Regions from separate parts of the Homo sapiens genome. Here region 2 is linked to region 1. Evidence: fine-mapped expression QTL. A gene starts in region 1. The other region holds a variant in brackets. All regions are shown on one strand. Distances are between the middles of the regions. Region 1 holds the start of TCF3 (transcription factor 3). Region 2 overlaps TCF3 (transcription factor 3).

Region 1 (8,514 bases):
GGGCTCCGGCATTCCAGCCTCACTGCACCTGCCTGAACTGTGTGACTTCTGAGGACCAGCACCCTCTGAGCCTCCGTTCACCCAGGTGGAGAATGGGCCGTACAGGGACAGATCCAACCACCTAAGACTCTGAAGAAGCCGCCCCGCCCTCCCCACCGGGCCTGCCTGCTCCGCAGTGATAACCGTGGCAGTCACAATGGTGGCGCTGCTGTCTGCTCGGTGGCCCATGAATTCCCACTCAATCCCAATCCAGCCTCCTCCTGGCCCAAGCTCGGCTTCTGGCAGCTTAACTTCAGCACCCACGTGTGACTAATTAACCACACAGTCAGTTTCATGCCCGCATCCTCTGCCCACCAGGGGAGTCCCGTATGGGGCAGGTTGTGTCTGCCCTGTTCACGGAGGGTGGTCCGCTCAGCACTGGGCACCCCCTCCTTTACTTCTTTGAGGAAGGATCTTACTCTATCGCCCAGGAAGGAGTGCAGTGGCGCAATCACAGCTCACTGCAGCCTCAACCTCCAGGGCTCAAGTGATTCTCCTTGCCTCAGCCTCCCAAGTAGCTGGGACCACAGGCATCTACCACCACTCCTAGCTAATTTTTTGAGTTTTGTTTTGTCTTTTTGAGAAATGGGGCCTCACTATGTTTCCTGGGCTGGACTTGGAACTCCTGGCCTCAAGCGATCCTCCCGCCTCAGCCTCCCAAAGTGCTGGAATGACAGGTGGGAACCACTGTGCCCAGCCCCCCTCCCATTTACTGAAACAGGGTCTCCAGGGTCTCACTGTCAACCAGACTGGAGTGCAGTGATCTTTTACTTACTTTTAATTTTTGTATCTACAATGAGGTAAGCGACCCTGATCAGGCCCATTTTACAGATCAGAAGATCAAGGCCGCATTTTGCTTACCCAGCCAAGCTGGGGGCCCAGGACCATGCCCCTGAGGACTCAGTTTCCCCATCTGTAAAGCAGTAGGCTGTAGAATGCTGCGTCCGGGCAAAAGCCCCATAGCACACGTGCTGCCGTGCGCTGTCAGCCTCCTGCCAGAGAGCGGCCCACTCCCCCAGCCCCACCGGGGCCTCCCATCCAAACAGCTGAGGCTCCATCGCTGAAGTATTCAGCAAACACTCTCCCCTGAAAACCTTCCCGTGAACTGTGGAGGCAAAGGGGTGTCGGGGGCTGGGCGGGGGTCCTGGCTCACCATGCTGAAGTCCAGGAGGTCACTGAGCTCCTTGTCTGTGCCCACAGGCGCCATCCTCTGCGGCTGGTTCATTCTCCTGGGGCCAGGGCGGGCACCTCAGGCCTGGAAACCCTGCTTGGTGGATGTGGGGACAGATGGACAGGGAGAAACAGGGAGGGGAGAAGAGTTGTGAGTGGTCAAAGCACAGAGTGCTAAAAGCCACCTAAAAAACCCTCAACCGCCCTGGGGTCTGAGTTCCAGCAGAGCCCTGGGGGCACGGGGAGCCCTGGGAGCAGGCGCAGGGAAGCTGGAATTCCAGAGTCTAGGTCCCTGCAGAGTCCTCCCCAGAGACCACAGGGAGTCTGAAAAATGGGGGGAGGGTGTGCAAATATAAACTCCCTAACTCCCCCAGGGAACACCAGGGCATCAAGTTGCCAAGTTTAAACTGCACGCAGGGCAGCCAGAACCTCTCCTTTCTCCAACTCTCTCATTTCCAACCAACCCCGGGCTTCCTCTGAGGCCCCCTACCCCCGGGAAAGGGAGGAACAGCCCGATCCTACCCCGCCCCGAGGGAAATTTGGTGATTCCCCCCTCCCCCAGCAGATGGCACAGCCCGTTGAAGACCAGGTCGCCCCCAAATTCAACATGAAGGAAATCCACAAGTCAGAAAACCACGAAACTCTTTTACAAGCTTCAAGACTTAAAGTGCCGGGGGTGGGGGGGACGCGCATCCTATGCAGGGACCAGCAAAGCTTTCCTCCACCCTCAATCTCCCTCCCCCCAAGAAAACCCCAACAGTATTCAGGAAAGAAAAAAAAAACAGCCCTAGATTGCTTTACTGTCGCGATGTATCCGGGAATTATTTTTAAGCAAAACTTTGACAACATCCCTTGCCTGCCCTCCATGAGCGGGGAGAGCGTCTCAAGACCAGGGTGCTCCCGCGTGGTCCCAGGGGGCTCCATTCTAAGATGGGGGATGGGGGATCCACCTGCCAAGACCCATTCCACCCCCAGAAAAAGGTACAGAGAAAAATTTCCATTCCAAAGAAATGCACTCCAGGCCCCTCCAGTCTCGACTTTCCCCAGGGGTCCCCAGGTGGGGACGGGGGCAGCCCGGGAGACACCTCCGAGGCTGGGGGTGGGGAGGAGCCTCCGAGGTCGAGGGAGACCCAACTTCAGAAGCAGAGAAATCCCCTCTTTGTCTGCCAACTGGAGGCCGGGTGTGAAGCGGGCGCCCCAGCGCAGCCCCTCCCCCGCTCAGTTTTTTTCTTTTTTGGAGGGCGTGTGAAACTGACTTTTTTTGAGGACTACGAAACCGCACTTTTTTGTGGGGTAGCTGAAACCGATTTTAAGACAGACTTAGTTGGGGGGGTGGCGAGCTAAAACGGGCATTCTACGGGAGCTGGAAGACTTCTGGGGCGTCCCAAGGACTTTGAGAGACTTGGAGAATGTTTGAAGCCACTTTGCACGGCGCCGAAGGCGGGGGGCGCGCTGGAACGCCTTTTTCCCGGGGGGAGGCGGCCCGGGAAGCCGGACCCCCCTCCCCCCGCAGCCGGTGCAGGCGGTGCGGCCCGGGAGCCTTTGAAGCTCGCAGCGCGGCCGCCGCCTCGCCCCGCATTAACGCGGAGCAGATGTTACCCGCGCGCCCCCCCCCGGCCCGCCCGGCCCCGACCAGCGCCTGCAGCGCGCGGCACCTTCCCCGCGCAGACAAAAGGACGTCCCTCCCGCGCGCTCCCCACCCCAAACTCCGGCGCCCGGGCCGGGCCCCCCTCTACCCGAGAAAGGGGGCGCCCCGGGGTCCCCGTGCGCCCGGGCTGGGGGGGACGGTCCTCGCGCCTAAGTTGCACAGCCCGTCCGGCGCCCCCCGCGCCCCCGCCCGGGGCTGCTTAAAGTTTCCCGAAGTGCCCGGCCCGACGGGGGCGACGCGGGCCTGGCGAGCTCCGGGCTCCTCCACGTCGCCGCCCCCCCGGCGCCGCGCGAAGTTGGAGAACAATGACTCCCGGGCCGCGGGGCGCCCCCCGACACCGCCCCCGCCCCAACTTCCTCCGCGCCCCCCCCCAACAAGCGCGCGCGGGGCGGGCCGGGGTTCCCTGGGCACAAAGCACGGGGGTACCGGGCGCGCCCCCCGCCCCCCGCCGGGCTCACCTGCTGGGCGCGGCCGGGCACGCGGCGCGTGGGGGGGGGCGGCGGCATGAAGCGGGGGGGCCCCCCCCCGGACAAAGGTGCGTCGCGGCCGGGCCCCCGAGGGTCGCGCGTGGGCGGCGGCGGCGGCGCGCGTGGCCCGGGCCCCTCCCACCCCCGCGTGGCCCGTCCCGCGGGGCCCGTGCGCGCGGCCGGCCGGGGCGCCCCTGGGGCAGCGGCGTGCGCGGTGCCCGCGGTGCCCGCCGCCGCGTCGGCTCCGGCCCGCTACGCCCGCAGCCGCCGCCGCTGCCTCATCTTCCTGCGGCGGGAGACATGTTCCGCCCCCCGCCCGCGCCGCCCCGCCCCGCCCCGTGCAGGCCCCGCCCCTGCCCCGCCCCCGAGTGCCCCGCCCGGCGGCCCACGCGGATCCCTCCGCCACCTCCGGGCGGCTCGGGCCCGAACGCCCTAGCTCGGCCTCTCGAGCACCCTCGTGAGGACCCCGAATCCCGTGAGGTCCAGAGCCTGGGAGCGGGGACGCGCAGAGGAGGCGGTCGGGCCACGGCGCGGGGAGAAATCACGGACTATCCCCGTCCGCGGAAGCACACACGAGCTGTGCGCTTAGTCCATGACGCAAGCGAGTAAGGCCCGTGAGATTGAAAGCTAAGGCAGAGCAGTCTGGTCAATCGGAAGCCGCGAAAGTCTGATGGGCGGGGATCCTAGCCATTCGTGGTGAGGCCCCGCCTCCTTTCTTCTCGGCCCCGCCCCTCAGCAGAGGCGGGACTCTGCGAGCGAGAGGCCGCGAGAGGCGGCCGGGGTGGGTCCTGGAGTTTTGTTCTCAGGTTGGCGTGGCCGCCCGCGCGGAGCCTTCTGCTTGGTTATATTTGCGTTCCTCGGGCCGGCCCCGCGTGCTGAGTGGTGCGAGCGGGTATCACGGCCCCGAGGGGGCTACGTCAGACCCATTTTCCCGGCGGGAAAACCGACTCTGGCTCCGGCTCTGGGTCAGAGAGCCCCGCGGGGAGTCTCAGCGGTGCCTTTGCCGACTTGAGTCTCCGTCTCGGCATCTGTGAATTTGGACCTGACTTTGGACAGAACTCAGGCCAGATCTGGCTTCCTGATTCTTAGTAGTCCGTGTCTACATTTTAGTAAAAAGTGACCCCGCCTAGGATCGGGCGCCGTGGCTCCTGCCTGTGATCCCAGCGCTTTGAAGGAGGCCGAGGCGGGAAGATCGCTTGAGGCCAGGAGTTCGAGAACAGCCTGAACAACATAGTGAAACCCCCCCCACCCACACCCGTCTCTAAAAATATTTAAAATAATTTAAAATAATAATTTAAAAAGTTGACCGGACGCGGTGGCCCACGCTTGTATTCCCAGCACTTTGGGAGGCCAAGGCGGGCAGATCACCTGAAGTCAGGAGTTCGAGACCTCTCTGGCCAACACGGTGAAACCCCATCTCTACTAAAAATACAAAAATTAGCCGGGCATGGTGGCGGGCACCTGTAGTCCTAGCTACTCGGGAGGCTGAGGCAGCAGAATCGCTTTCACCCGAAAGGCGGAGGTTGCAATGAGCCGAGAGCACGCCATTGTACTCCAGCCTGGGCAACAAGGACGAAACTCCGTCTCAAAATAAATAAATAAATAAGTAAAATAAAATAAAAATACAAAAATTAGCTGGGCGTGGTGGCATACACCTATAATCTCAGCTACTCGGGAAGCTGAGGCAGGAGAATCGCTTAAACCCAGGAGGCAGAGGTTGCAGTGAGCAGAGATCGCAGCACTGCACTCCAGGCTGGGCGACAGAACGAGGCTCCGTCTCAAAAAAAAAAGTAAAATAACTAAACAAATAAATGAAAATAACACAATCTCCCAGGGCTCCCTGGGGCCCCAAAGGGAAATTTACACTCCACTCCCAGCCTGGGAAGATGCCACCATCTCGCTGGCCCGCTTGGCTCCAGCCATCCTGCCCTCTGGATGGTCCAGAACTTGCTAAGCTCATCCCCACCCCGGGCCTCTACGTTTGCTTTGTCCTCTACCTGGGAGGCTTTTCCCACCCCTATCTGGAGCCCCTGAGTCATCACAGTTCAATGCTGCACCTATGCCAGGCCGGCGGGGAGGCGGGGCCACAGGGGCCCCCCACCAAAGCCACAAGCCCCTCCTGCTATACACCCAAACTGGGCTGTCCACAGTCCGACCCTCCGTGCCCAGAGAGTTCCACGTGCCGCAGGTCTGGGGAGAGGGCTGTGGGTCCCAGGGTCTGTGCTGCAAATCCCTCATCCCTCTCCACCTCACTGTGACCTCAGGCAAGTTCGTGCTACTCTCCGGGCCTCGGTTTCTCCATCTGGACAGTGGAAGGGGGGAGTCTGGCACACAGTAGGTGCTCACAGCTGATGCCTGCCTTCCTCAGCCGCCCCCCACCCCCGCAGAGGCCTCTCCGGAGCCAGGGTCTCCAAGCAGCTCCAATCCCACCCCAGCCTCCTCAGCCCCCGGCCCTTCCTTGTGGCCCAGCCCTGACCCCATGGGTCTGAGGGTGTCTGTGGCCGGGTCTGGCTCTCCCCATTCCAGTGTAGGGAGCTCACTGTGGGCCACTCCCCACCCACACTCAGGGTCCAAGCCATAGTGTGGCAGCCGGAGTCCTCCCGAGGAGCCCTTCAGTTTCACCCACGGAAGGGAAGCAACCATCCAATCACGGACTTCTTCTTCTTCTTCTTCTTCTTCTTCTTCTTCTTATTATTATTATTATTATTTTGAGAAAGAGTCTCGCTCTGTTGCCCAGGCTGGAGTGCAGTGGTGAGATCACAGCTCACTGCAGCCTTGACCTCCTGGGCTCAAACGATCCTCCCGCCTCAGTTTCCCGAGTAGCTGGGACCACAGGCACGCGCCACCACACCCAGCTAATTTTGTATTTTTTGTAGAGACGGGGTTCTCCCTATGTTGCCCAGGCTGGTCTTGAACTCCTAGGCACAAGTGATCCTCCCGCCTTGGCTTCCCAGAGTGCTGGGATTACAGGCGTGTGCCACTGCGCCGTACAAGACTATTCAATTATCGGGCACTGACAGCGAACGGGGCCTTGTGCCGCGCATCGTAGCACTGTGGACAGTGATGGACTCAGTCCCTGCTGTCCCGGCAGGATGACCCATGAGGGACCCCTTGTCTAGTCCTGAATGTGGCTCTTTCCTGTGAGGTCCTCCTGCCTGTGTGGTTCCACGTATCGTACAGATGAGGAAACTGAGACTAGGGGTCTCCTCCCTGGGCCCCAGGGCACCCTGGGGCTCGCGCCTGCCAGGAGGTTCCGCTGGTAACCACAAGCCACCATTGTTTTCCCCAAGGAGGTCAGTCCTGGGGCTGAGTCACTGGGTGGAGCAGCCCGTGGGGGCCCCCCACTTGGCCACCACCTCTGCCCAGCCCCGAGGCCTGGGTGCTCCCTCCAGGGCCCTGGTACGGGGACAGGCAGCAAGCTATCCTCCTGACTGTGGCCTTTGTTTTGCTCTGGGGCCGGGCAGGAGGAGGAGCAGGGCCTCTGCACCTGCCGCCTGTTCCCTCCACACCTACTGTGTGCGCCCCCGCCAACATGAACCACGTATGTCAGAAAAACTGAGGCCAAGGACAACTTCCCACTAGGGAGACACAGAAGCGAGGGGGGCGAGGGGCGGCGATGGCGAGGTTTCCAGAGACAGACGCAGTAGGTGTGCAGGCCACAGCTGTCCGCAGAGAGACTGGGCTTGGATTAGGACTTCGGGGCCACCCTCCAGATTTCTGTTTCCATTTGTCCCTAAAGTGGGCACCTTTGACTTCTCCCAGGGTATGAACACACTCCCCCAACCCCCAGCGCCCTCCAGCAGGGGCGGAGAAGGGAGTGGCGGCCCAGCACTTATCACCCACGTCAGGCCCTGGGACAAACCTCGCTCCGGCGTCCACTGAGCACGGGCAGCTGGGGCGATCGGTGTCGCCTCCCAAAGTGGGGGCTTCCTGCTCGAGCTCAGACCTCCAGTGAGGGGCCTGATCCCAACACGACCAGATCAGGACCACCCCACAGAGCCCTGGGCTGGGACTCGGCCAGGGTAGGGCCCATTCCCTTATTCTCCACAACTTCGTTTTTATTTTATTTTAGCAGAGATGGGGTGAGGTGGAAGGATCGCTTGAGCCCAGGAGTTTGAGACCAGACTGGACAACACAGCAAGACCCCATCTCTTAAAAAAAAATTTTTTTTTTTAGATGAAATCTCACTCTGTCGTCCAGGCTGGAGGGCAGTGGTGCCAGCTCAGCTCACTACAACCTCCACCTCCTGGGGTCAAGCGATTCTCCTGCCTCAGCCTCCTGAGTAGCTGGGATTATAGGTGCCCACTGCCACGCCTGGCTAATTTTTGTATTTTTTTATAGAGACGGGGTTTCACCCTGTCGCCCAGGCTGGTCTAGAACTCCTGGCCTCAAGCGATCTTCCTGCCTTGGCCTACCCAAAGTGATGGGCTTACCAGCATGAGCCACCACACCCGGCCCCATTCTTCCTGCCTTCTGGGAGGAGGCGTCTCCAGGCTTGCTGGTTGGACCTGGGCAGGGAAGCCTCCTGAGATTGGGAGTGCTAGGGGCTTATGATTGTTCTCCCCTAGCGGAGGGAGGAGATTCTGGTGTGAAATGGAGCAGTGGGGACACACTCCAGTTCCTGGGGTCTGATCACAAGGGTTCCTGACTCCTCGGGCACTTCCAGCTATGAGGACACCAAGGAAGGGAAGAGGCTTGTCGGTGATCAGACCCCTACCCCTCCACCCAGACTTATGGGAGCCAGAGGGCCAGGAGAGCTGGGCAGGAGGCTCTGAGGTTGACGGGAATGGGAACACAGCCTCACACCTCCTGCTGTAGGGCATTCAGGGGAAGAAGGACCATCTCCCACAGGGAGTGGGTCCCCTGGGGCAGTGACTCTTGGGCTATGACCTCAAGATGCATGCGGTCGACAGGCAGAGAGCGGATACCATGCCAGGCAGGGGAAGCTGAGGGACAAAGGTACTGAGGTGGGAGGGGGTGTGGGGTGTTCAAGGAACGGGGCCTGTGAGGCTGGAGCCCAGAGAAGACCAGAGAAGAGGAGCCAAGATCAGAGAGAGGGGCAGGGCCTCCTATGCCACAGGGAGGAATTGGGTCTTCATGGTGAGAGGACTAGGGAACCATGGTGGGAGTTTGAGCAAGAGACGGACGTGATCACAGGGACCATGAGTTGGGGTGGATCTGGGGTACATT
Region 2 (8,000 bases), 34 kb before region 1:
ATGCTGAGGCAGGCAGGGAGAAGGGCTGGCAGTCAGGAGTGGACAGTCATGGCAATGCGGTCAGAGGGGTGAAGGGCACAGTCACTGCAAGGAGGCAACTGCTGCAGAGGGAGGGCTGGCTCCAGGAAGGCGGGCGGGGAAGGAGAACGAGGGCAGGAACACGAGGGAGGGTGGCGCTGCAGGGACGCTGGTGGCCCGCGCCCCCACTGACCTCGCACTTGCTGCTCCAAGTTCAGGATGACCGAGACAGCCTGGTGCAGGATGAGCAGTTTGGTCTGGGGCTTCTCGCTGTTGAGGTGCAGTTGGCACATGCGCCCCAGCTCCTTAAAGGCCTCGTTGATGTCACGGACCCGCAGCCGCTCCCGGGCGTTATTGGCCACCCGGCGCTCCTTCTCCCGCTCGGCCTTCTGCTCTGGGGGGAGAAGGTCGTCCTCGTCCTCGTCTGGGCTATGGGGAGGGCGCCGGGAGGGGGCCAGAGGGAGACAGTGAGGTTGGGGGAAGAGCGTGGGGCCCGCCGACGGCCTCCCAGTGTGGGTGCGGTGTGCGTGTGGCCTGTGCACATGTGCGTCCTGATGGGGTGAGGGTGGGGAGTGCCGAGGGGTGGGTTGGCACCTGGTCCGGGCCCGGGGGGCCTTCAGCTCCTTCTTCTCCTCCTCCGAGTGGTCAGCCGCTGACGTGTTCTCCTCGTCCTCCTTCTCCTCCCGCTTGATCTCGCTGGCGGCCGCCGTGGCACCTGCTCGCCCTAGCCCTGCAACAGGCCTAGGGTCAGGGGCCTGCGTCGGCCTCCAGGGCCAACTGACATATCTCTTTGTGCTCCTGTGGTGAGGGACTTGGGCTTTCCTGGAAAAACCAGGTCTTGGCCAAAAATAAAAACAAAAAACCAACAACCAGAACTGGATCCCTACCTCACGCCATGTGTAGCTACCAATGCCAGACAGATTAAGGACCACAAGATGAAAGGGAAACAGTTTTACCACCTTTGGAACAAAGTGTGTAGAAATTCTGCAGCAACTCAATGGCAGGAATCTACTAAGATGCTAAAAGAACACTCTTCTTTTTTGGTGAAAGTAAACTGTTTCAATCATTAACTTAAAAATATGGAACACTTCGGATGGGCACAGTGGCTCACACCAGCTCACACCTGTAATGCCAGCATTTTGGGAGGCCGAGGTGGGTGGATCACGAGGTCAGGAGATCAAGACCATCCTGGCTAACATGGTGAAACCCCATCTCTACTAAAAATACAAAAAATTAGCCAGCTGTGGTGGTGGGTACCTGTAATCCCAGCTACTTGGGAGGCTGAGGCAGGAGAATCACTTGAACCCAGGAGGCGGAGGTTGCAGTGAGCCAAGATTGCGCCACTGTACTCCAGCCTGGGTGACAAAGCAAGACTCCGTCTCAAAAAAAAAAAAAAGAATAAAACTTTGGAACACTTCAGGAATGTCCACGTCACCCTTGTGCAGATGCTATGCTAATCTTTATCATTCTCATTTTAGTCCAAGAGCTGTCCAAGCAAGTGCTCAAAGCGCTGCTTTTGAAAGAACACAGGCCGGGCACAGTGGCTGACTCACGCCTGTGATCCCAGCACTTTGGGAGGCTGAGGTGGAAGGGTCACTTGAGGCCAGGGGGTCATGGCTACCGTGAGCTGTGATCATGCCCCTGCACTCTGGTGTGACAGGGTGAGACCCTGTCTCAAAACAAAACAAGTAAAAAAGAAAAAACAAAAATCAGTAAGCTGGACTATATCAGAATTGAGAGTTCCTGATCAGCAAAGATACCAGGAAAAGAAAAGCATTTGCCAAAGAATAGAAGACACCCACCACAGATGTAGCCAACCAGGAGGTGATCTCCCACAATCAATGGGAAAGGACAAAAAGAAAGTAACTCAGTAGAAAAATAAGCAAGGTATCCAAAAAGGCATCTCACAGACAAGGAAACCACATGGCTAGAAACACGTGGAAGTCCGCTTCAGCACATCAAGAGATTAAGGAAATGCAAATTAGGGTGGCTTTGCGCTACCCTTTCATACCCAGTCAGCTAGCAAAGTTGAGGGACCTGAACAGTCAAAATCTTGCCTGTGGGAGGGCAACTTGGCTGCTTTGGAAAATAATTCATCAGCCTTTCCTCTGAATTGACAACAGGTGTATCACACCCTTGATCAGCAGGTTGGCAGGAAAGCGTGATGTTGGAATGACCTACAGCCCCACGCCCGGGCCAGGGCCAACGGCACACTCACAATGGGACCCCAGCCGCTCACACCACACATGTACCCCACACACAACATAAGCCAGCAAACCAGCGTGTAAAGAACACGCTAGTGGGACGCCGTGTTCATGAAGCTCAAGAACAATAATTGCAAAACATGTGGCTTAAGGGTACACAGTGCCCCAAATGAATGCGGCCACTCTGCATTCAGCAGGGCCTGGGCCACCCCCAAAACCCGGGCTTGGGGAGTCCAGGAATCAGTCAGGGCTCACATGGAGCAAACCAGCTGCCATCCCCTGAGACCCCCGTACCCTGAGGGGGAGCCTCAGAAATGCACCCGCTCCCCACAGTGAACTCTGCTCCAATCGGCCAACGCCAGCCACCAGGACCAGCCCAGGCCTCAGCACACGAAGTGAAGGACAGGAAGGAAACAGAGGGGAGCCTATGGGTGAAAGACTAAGCTTGGGGCTGCCCCTGGAAACTGCTGACCTGTGGGTCCGGACCCTTCTCTGGGGTGGGGCCGTCCTGGGCACTGCAGGGTGCTGAGCAGCATCCCTGGCCCCCACCCACTCCATGCCAGGAGCTCCCCTCAGCCCTGACAACTGTAGATGTCCCCAGACATCACCCAGTGTCCCCTGGGGGCAGAGCCGCTGCGGTGAGATGCCCTGGCCTAGGAGTGATAGAATCAAGGTACTTGGAAAGTCTGCCTGGAAAGCAGGCAGGATTCCTGGGCTGGTGGAAGGCACAGGGCCAGGACAGCGCCCACAATGACCCCACCTTCTCCTGGGCCTCTCATGGGTGTCTGAGACACTCAACAATCCCCAGGCCCAGGTCCAGATTTGTCCCCAACCTTTTCCTTTGTCCCCTTCCTTACGGAGTTCCCAGCCCCAGTGTCACCCACAGCTCGGGCCAGAAATCCCAGAGCCACCCTGCCTTCTCTCACCCTCAAGTCCTGTCCATCACAAATCCTGTGGGCCCCGCCTTCAGGAGATGCAGGGCCCACCCACTGCTCACCCCTCCAAGGCCCCTGGACCAGCCCTGTGGCCTCTGCCTTGGTCTCCCGGTGCCACTCATAGTCTGTCCTCCAAGCAGCCACCAGAGGGTATCTGTGAGCACCTGGGTCAGGTCCCATCCCTCCTCAGCCCTCCACGGCTGCCACCTTTCTCATGGCCAAATCCCAAGTCCTCCCCGCAGCCCACAAGGCCCCGCATGACCTGCCCTGCCCCGCCCTCCCCCCTTCCCTCTCTCCCTCTCCTCACTCTGCTCCAACCCCACGGGTCTCCTGGCTGTTCCTCCCAGGTGCAGTCCAGCCCCAGGGCCTTTGCCTGGGCTGCGCCCTCTGCCTGAAACCCTCCTCCTCCAGGTACTTGCCTACTCTTGCCTCCTCCCAGATGCTGCCCAAACACCACCTTGTGGCCTCATGGGCCACCATCTTCAAAGCCATACAAAACCCCCAACCCACCGCAGCCACTTCGTTCCTTCTCCCTGGCACCTGTACTGTGCAGCGAGCTCCTGGTCTGTCTCCCCTGAGGCAGAGGCATCCTGCTGCACCCCTCGCCCCTTCCCCAGTGCTGAGCGCTGCCAGGCACACAGCGTCTGGGAGCAGGCGAATGAAGAGGCAGCCCAGAGCTGTCCACCTCACACGCCCAGGGCCAACGCCGGCCCCGCCGGTCTTACCCACCCTCCTGAAGTTGCTGACTGGGGCGCCCATGTCACCAGGTGCCCCCACGGTGACACCTGCCCTGGGCTCCCACCCTGACCCCCACCACTAGAGTGCCTCAGTTTCCCCAACTGGAACCAGGAGTCGGACAGTCCCAAGCTCAAGGGCTTACCACTGTAGGAGTCGGGAGGCCGAGACAGGTCAGGGAGGGTGCCTGGCTGGCTGGGGAGGGCCGCGTGGTTGTGCATGAGGCTGGTGCTGCCTGCGAGGCCGTCCTCGGGGTGGCTGCCTCCAACCTGCAGGCGTGGGGAGACGGGTGCATCAGGGGGAGCCGGGTCCCCGCCCACTGCCCAGCTCCACCCTCGCCCAGCGCTCACCAGGCCTGCGTGCCGCCC[G/A]CCCAGTGACATGGGGCCGGTGAAACCTGAGGCCAGCGCCCCGTGGCCAGGCAGCAGCGTGTGCATGTCGCCGGCTGTGCCCACGGCGTGGCTGCGGAGCACGTGGATGGCCTCGTCCAGGTGGTCTTCTATCTTACTCTGCTGCAGGGTGGGGGGATGGGTGGTGAGGGGCCCAAGCCGAGGGACCCCACAGGCCTCCATTCATGTCCCTTCCGCATGCAAGTGGCCGGTGGTCCCATCTTCCCCTTCCCCAGGAAGCTGCATATGCCAGGCATCTGGCGCCCGGGAGCACACACAAAATGTGTGTGCCTTGGCGGCCACGAGGCCTCAATAACAGCTTGGGGCTTATTTACAAGAAACTAACAAAAAGGTTTCTCCTTCTCAAGGAGCGTCTGTCCTGCAAATTCTGTCGGGGAAGGGTGGGGTGGGGCGGGGCAGGCACTCACCAGGCCGTGGAGACCCCCGTCGTAGCTGGGCGATAAGGCACCGGGGGCTCCTGCTCGAGGCCACTGTGACGTTCCTGGAAGGGAGTGGGGACGTGAATGGGGTGCGAGGGGCGGGGTGTGAGCATGGCCTGATGCCCATGGGGAGGGATTCATGAACCACCCCGCCTGTCCAGCCTCCGGTGATGCCCAAGATGGCCATTCCGGGGCACCCCACACTGATGCAAAGCTGCTCGGCCCCGCCAGGCAGGGATGCTGGGTGCCCAGTGGGTACTGCCATTCCTATCTCTGAGCCTCAGTTTCCCCATCTACAAAATCCAACTCCCCACTCAGAGGATAAAGTGGCTCGGCAGCACACAGTAGGGGGCTCCTCCCCATGCTGCCCCACCCTGGCTGACCCACGCTGGGCTCCAGCAGCAGGCAAGAAAGTGGCAAGCTCCAGGTGGGACCAGACAGGCCGAGGTGAAGTGAGGGTTCCTGGCGCTTCCCATGGGGGCAGAGATGAGGACTCACGGGTGTTTTTAAACACCCAGACCTTCTGGAAACCTCCAGTTCTCACTCCCCCTCCTCCTGTACCTGCCCCCGACCCCCTGCGGATAAGCAAGCACGTCCTCACAGGGATAGGAGGGTCTGCCCTCCCATGCCGGAGCACCGCACAGGGTAAACAGTCAGTACCTAATAAATACCCAGTGGGTGAGCAAATGGCAACACGCACACATTCTAGAGTCCAGGCCACAGCCCTGGCGATGCTGGCCCCATCGGACCTGGGAGCTGCTAGGCACGCCAATGTCCCCTCATGTTCACGCAGTGTGAACTGCCAGGTCCTGCCTCCTGGCTTTGCCTGTGCTGTGACCTAACCTGGACGCCACCTCCCAGCCCTCCCTCACTGCCTGGTTATGTGCTATAGCCTTGGAGGGCTGGCTTGGAGGCTGCCTCCACTAGGCAGCTTTCCTGGATTGCCCAGTGGAACACAAGCCCATGGGGGACTCCCTTCCACCGTCGGTTCCTGACCAGCGATGCCACGGGCCCTTGGGGGCCATCTGCTCCCTCCCCGCTGCCTGCCTATCCCAGCAAGGTGCAGACACCAGAACCAGCCTCCCCTCCCCCGCAAAGCCTTCACAGACCTCAGCCTCCCCTCCCCCCAAACCCTCACAGACCTCAGCCTCCCCTCCCCCCAAAACCCTCACAGACCTGCCAGGCCCTGGGGGGAGCCCACGGGGGTAGAAGGGCTGGACGAGAAGTTATTGCTTGAGTGATCCGGGGAGTAGATCTGCGAGGAGGACCAGGAGAGATGGGCGGTCAGGGGCCGGCCTCTCAGGTCACTTGCCTGGCCACCCCCCATGCCCCACGCCTCACCGAGGCCAGTGCTTTGCCGAGGGCATCCCCGGAGCTGCCAGCTGTGGTCCCTCGGGAGCCTGTGGGTGAAGAGAGGTGAGGCCCACGCAGCCCGGCCTGGGTGCTGCCGCCGACGGCAAGCTCTCCTGCGTTCTGCCGTCCTGCACAGACACTGCTGCGCCAGGGAGAGCAGCCTGACTCGGGTCCGGTTTCTGTCTGACCCCCTGAAACCAGCCTCTGCAGGGGTTGAGGCACTGGGGACAGGCCACTGGCAGGGGACCCTGGGTGGGTGAGTCCCCTTCTGGGCCTGGGTGGGTGAGTCCCCCTCTGGGCCTGGATGGGTGAGTCCCTCTCTGGGCCTGGGTAACTGAGTCCCTCTCTGGGCCTGGGTGGGTGAGTCCCTCTCTGGGCCTGGGTGGGTGAGTCCCTCTCTGACCCTGGGTGGGTGAGTCCCTCTCTGACCCTGGGTGGGTGAGTCCCTCTCTGAGCCTCTTTCCCAGCTGTAAGGCGGGAAAGCCGCTCCTCAAAGATCTGTTTCCAGACATCCCAAGCCCAACGCACGTGGCAGGCCCTGCAGACAGCGGACAATGAGAACTGACAACAACCCGCTCTCAGGGCCAGCAGACGCGCCTGCGCCTCCCGTGGAGTCCTCGCCACCCCCCACCCAGACCCTGCCTGGAGCCCAGTGTCCCCTCGGAGAGGCCGCATCCCAGGGAGGGGCCATACCCAGGAGGCTGTCGGCCCCGCTGACAGGCGGCGTGTGGCTGGAGACGCCGCCGTACGTGGCTCCGGGGGCTGAGGAGAAGGAGGATGCAGATGGGAGCCCACCGTTCACCTCTGCTCCATGCAGCTGGTAGCCCTGGGGGGTCAGGCAGGAGGAGGGTGGGTTAGATGGGCACTGCCACCCTCCGCCCACCCCCTGCCCCCTGCCCTGGGTCCTACCATACGCTCGTGCTGGTGCAGGCCACCAAACGTGCTGCTGCTTCCACTGCTGCCCACCGGGCCGCTACCGGGCGGGAGGGGCAGCGGGGATGAGCCCCCACCCAGCATGGGCCCGAAGCCCGCCTGGCCCGGGGGACTCCAGAGCTCGGCTGAGGGGTGCAGGCTGCCATCTGTGGAGGGGAGCTGGTAAGGTGGGGGCCGAGTGGGGAACCCCAGCCCTGCCCTACCGTCCCTGGCGAGCCCCCGCCCTGCCATGTACCTGCCACGTAGAAGGGGGCGGGATAGGTGCTGCTGGGGGTCTTGGCGGACGGGTAGGCGGTGGCATCCCTGCCGTAGTCCTCACCTGAGCTGGGTGGGTACACCTGCGGGCGGGTGGGCGGTGGGGGGTGCAGTCAGGACGGAGGGACCACGATCAGCCCATGCACCTTGCCGGCCTCCTGTCCCCTCCTGGTAGCACATCTACCACCCCGTTTCCCTTCCCTGTAAAGCCACCCCCCTTTAGGTAAATCCCAGCCCCTGGCCAAGTTTGAGGTTCTTATGATGTCCTGGTCTCTCTCTCCTACTCCTTTTCCAGCCCCCACCTCCCGCCTCCCTGAACTTCTGACCTTTGTACTTGAGGACTTGGATCTGGCTCTGCCTACTAAACCTTTTTCCTCCTTAATCCAGAAAACTCCTATCGACCCATCAAAACCCCAGCTCCAACACCCCATCCCATCCTTCTCCCTTGTTCCCCAGCTGGAATCAATCTTCCAGTGCTGAGCTTCCCTTGGTCCCAGAGCAACATTCGTCCTTCACTAAAGTAACAGGAAGAGGGGTCTGTGAGTAGCGCCAGCTCTGACTGGTTGGCACTGCCTGGACTGTGGGGCTGGGGCCTGTTGGTAACGTCTGCTGCTGTGCTGGAGCGGGAAGTATGCTGGGTGGGCCTGATGTTGTAATAAACTGGGGGGCGGTTTCAGGGCAGAGAAAGTGCACCCTGGGGAAGGAGGGGAGTGAGTGATACTGTTGGGAGCAGAGCCTGAC

What was found. PIP is the estimated chance that this variant, and not a neighbour inherited with it, causes the effect.
Region 2: its variant is fine-mapped to the expression of TCF3 in whole blood (INTERVAL, PIP 0.98).

The regions. Positions count from the first base shown.
Region 1 is chr19:1,648,985-1,657,498 of GRCh38, forward strand. It overlaps TCF3 (transcription factor 3), which reads right to left and starts at 3,631. Exons shown (of 19, transcript NM_003200.5): 1 at 3,316-3,631; 2 at 1,193-1,303. The coding sequence starts at 1,264. RefSeq lists enhancers at 1-159, 172-671, 4,090-4,139, 4,260-4,369 and silencers at 2,550-2,669, 2,650-2,872, 2,680-2,909, 3,000-3,079, 3,610-3,739 and 1 more.
Region 2 is chr19:1,615,074-1,623,073 of GRCh38, forward strand. It overlaps TCF3 (transcription factor 3), which reads right to left. Exons shown (of 19, transcript NM_003200.5): 9 at 7,240-7,342; 10 at 6,981-7,150; 11 at 6,765-6,897; 12 at 6,060-6,118; 13 at 5,895-5,973; 14 at 4,707-4,780; 15 at 4,243-4,401; 16 at 4,038-4,161; 17 at 613-748; 18 at 212-447. It also overlaps the pseudogene RNU6-1223P. Among named protein-coding and RNA genes, the nearest start is that of UQCR11, 14 kb to the left of the region's middle. The variant G/A (reference allele first, on the strand shown) is at 4,261.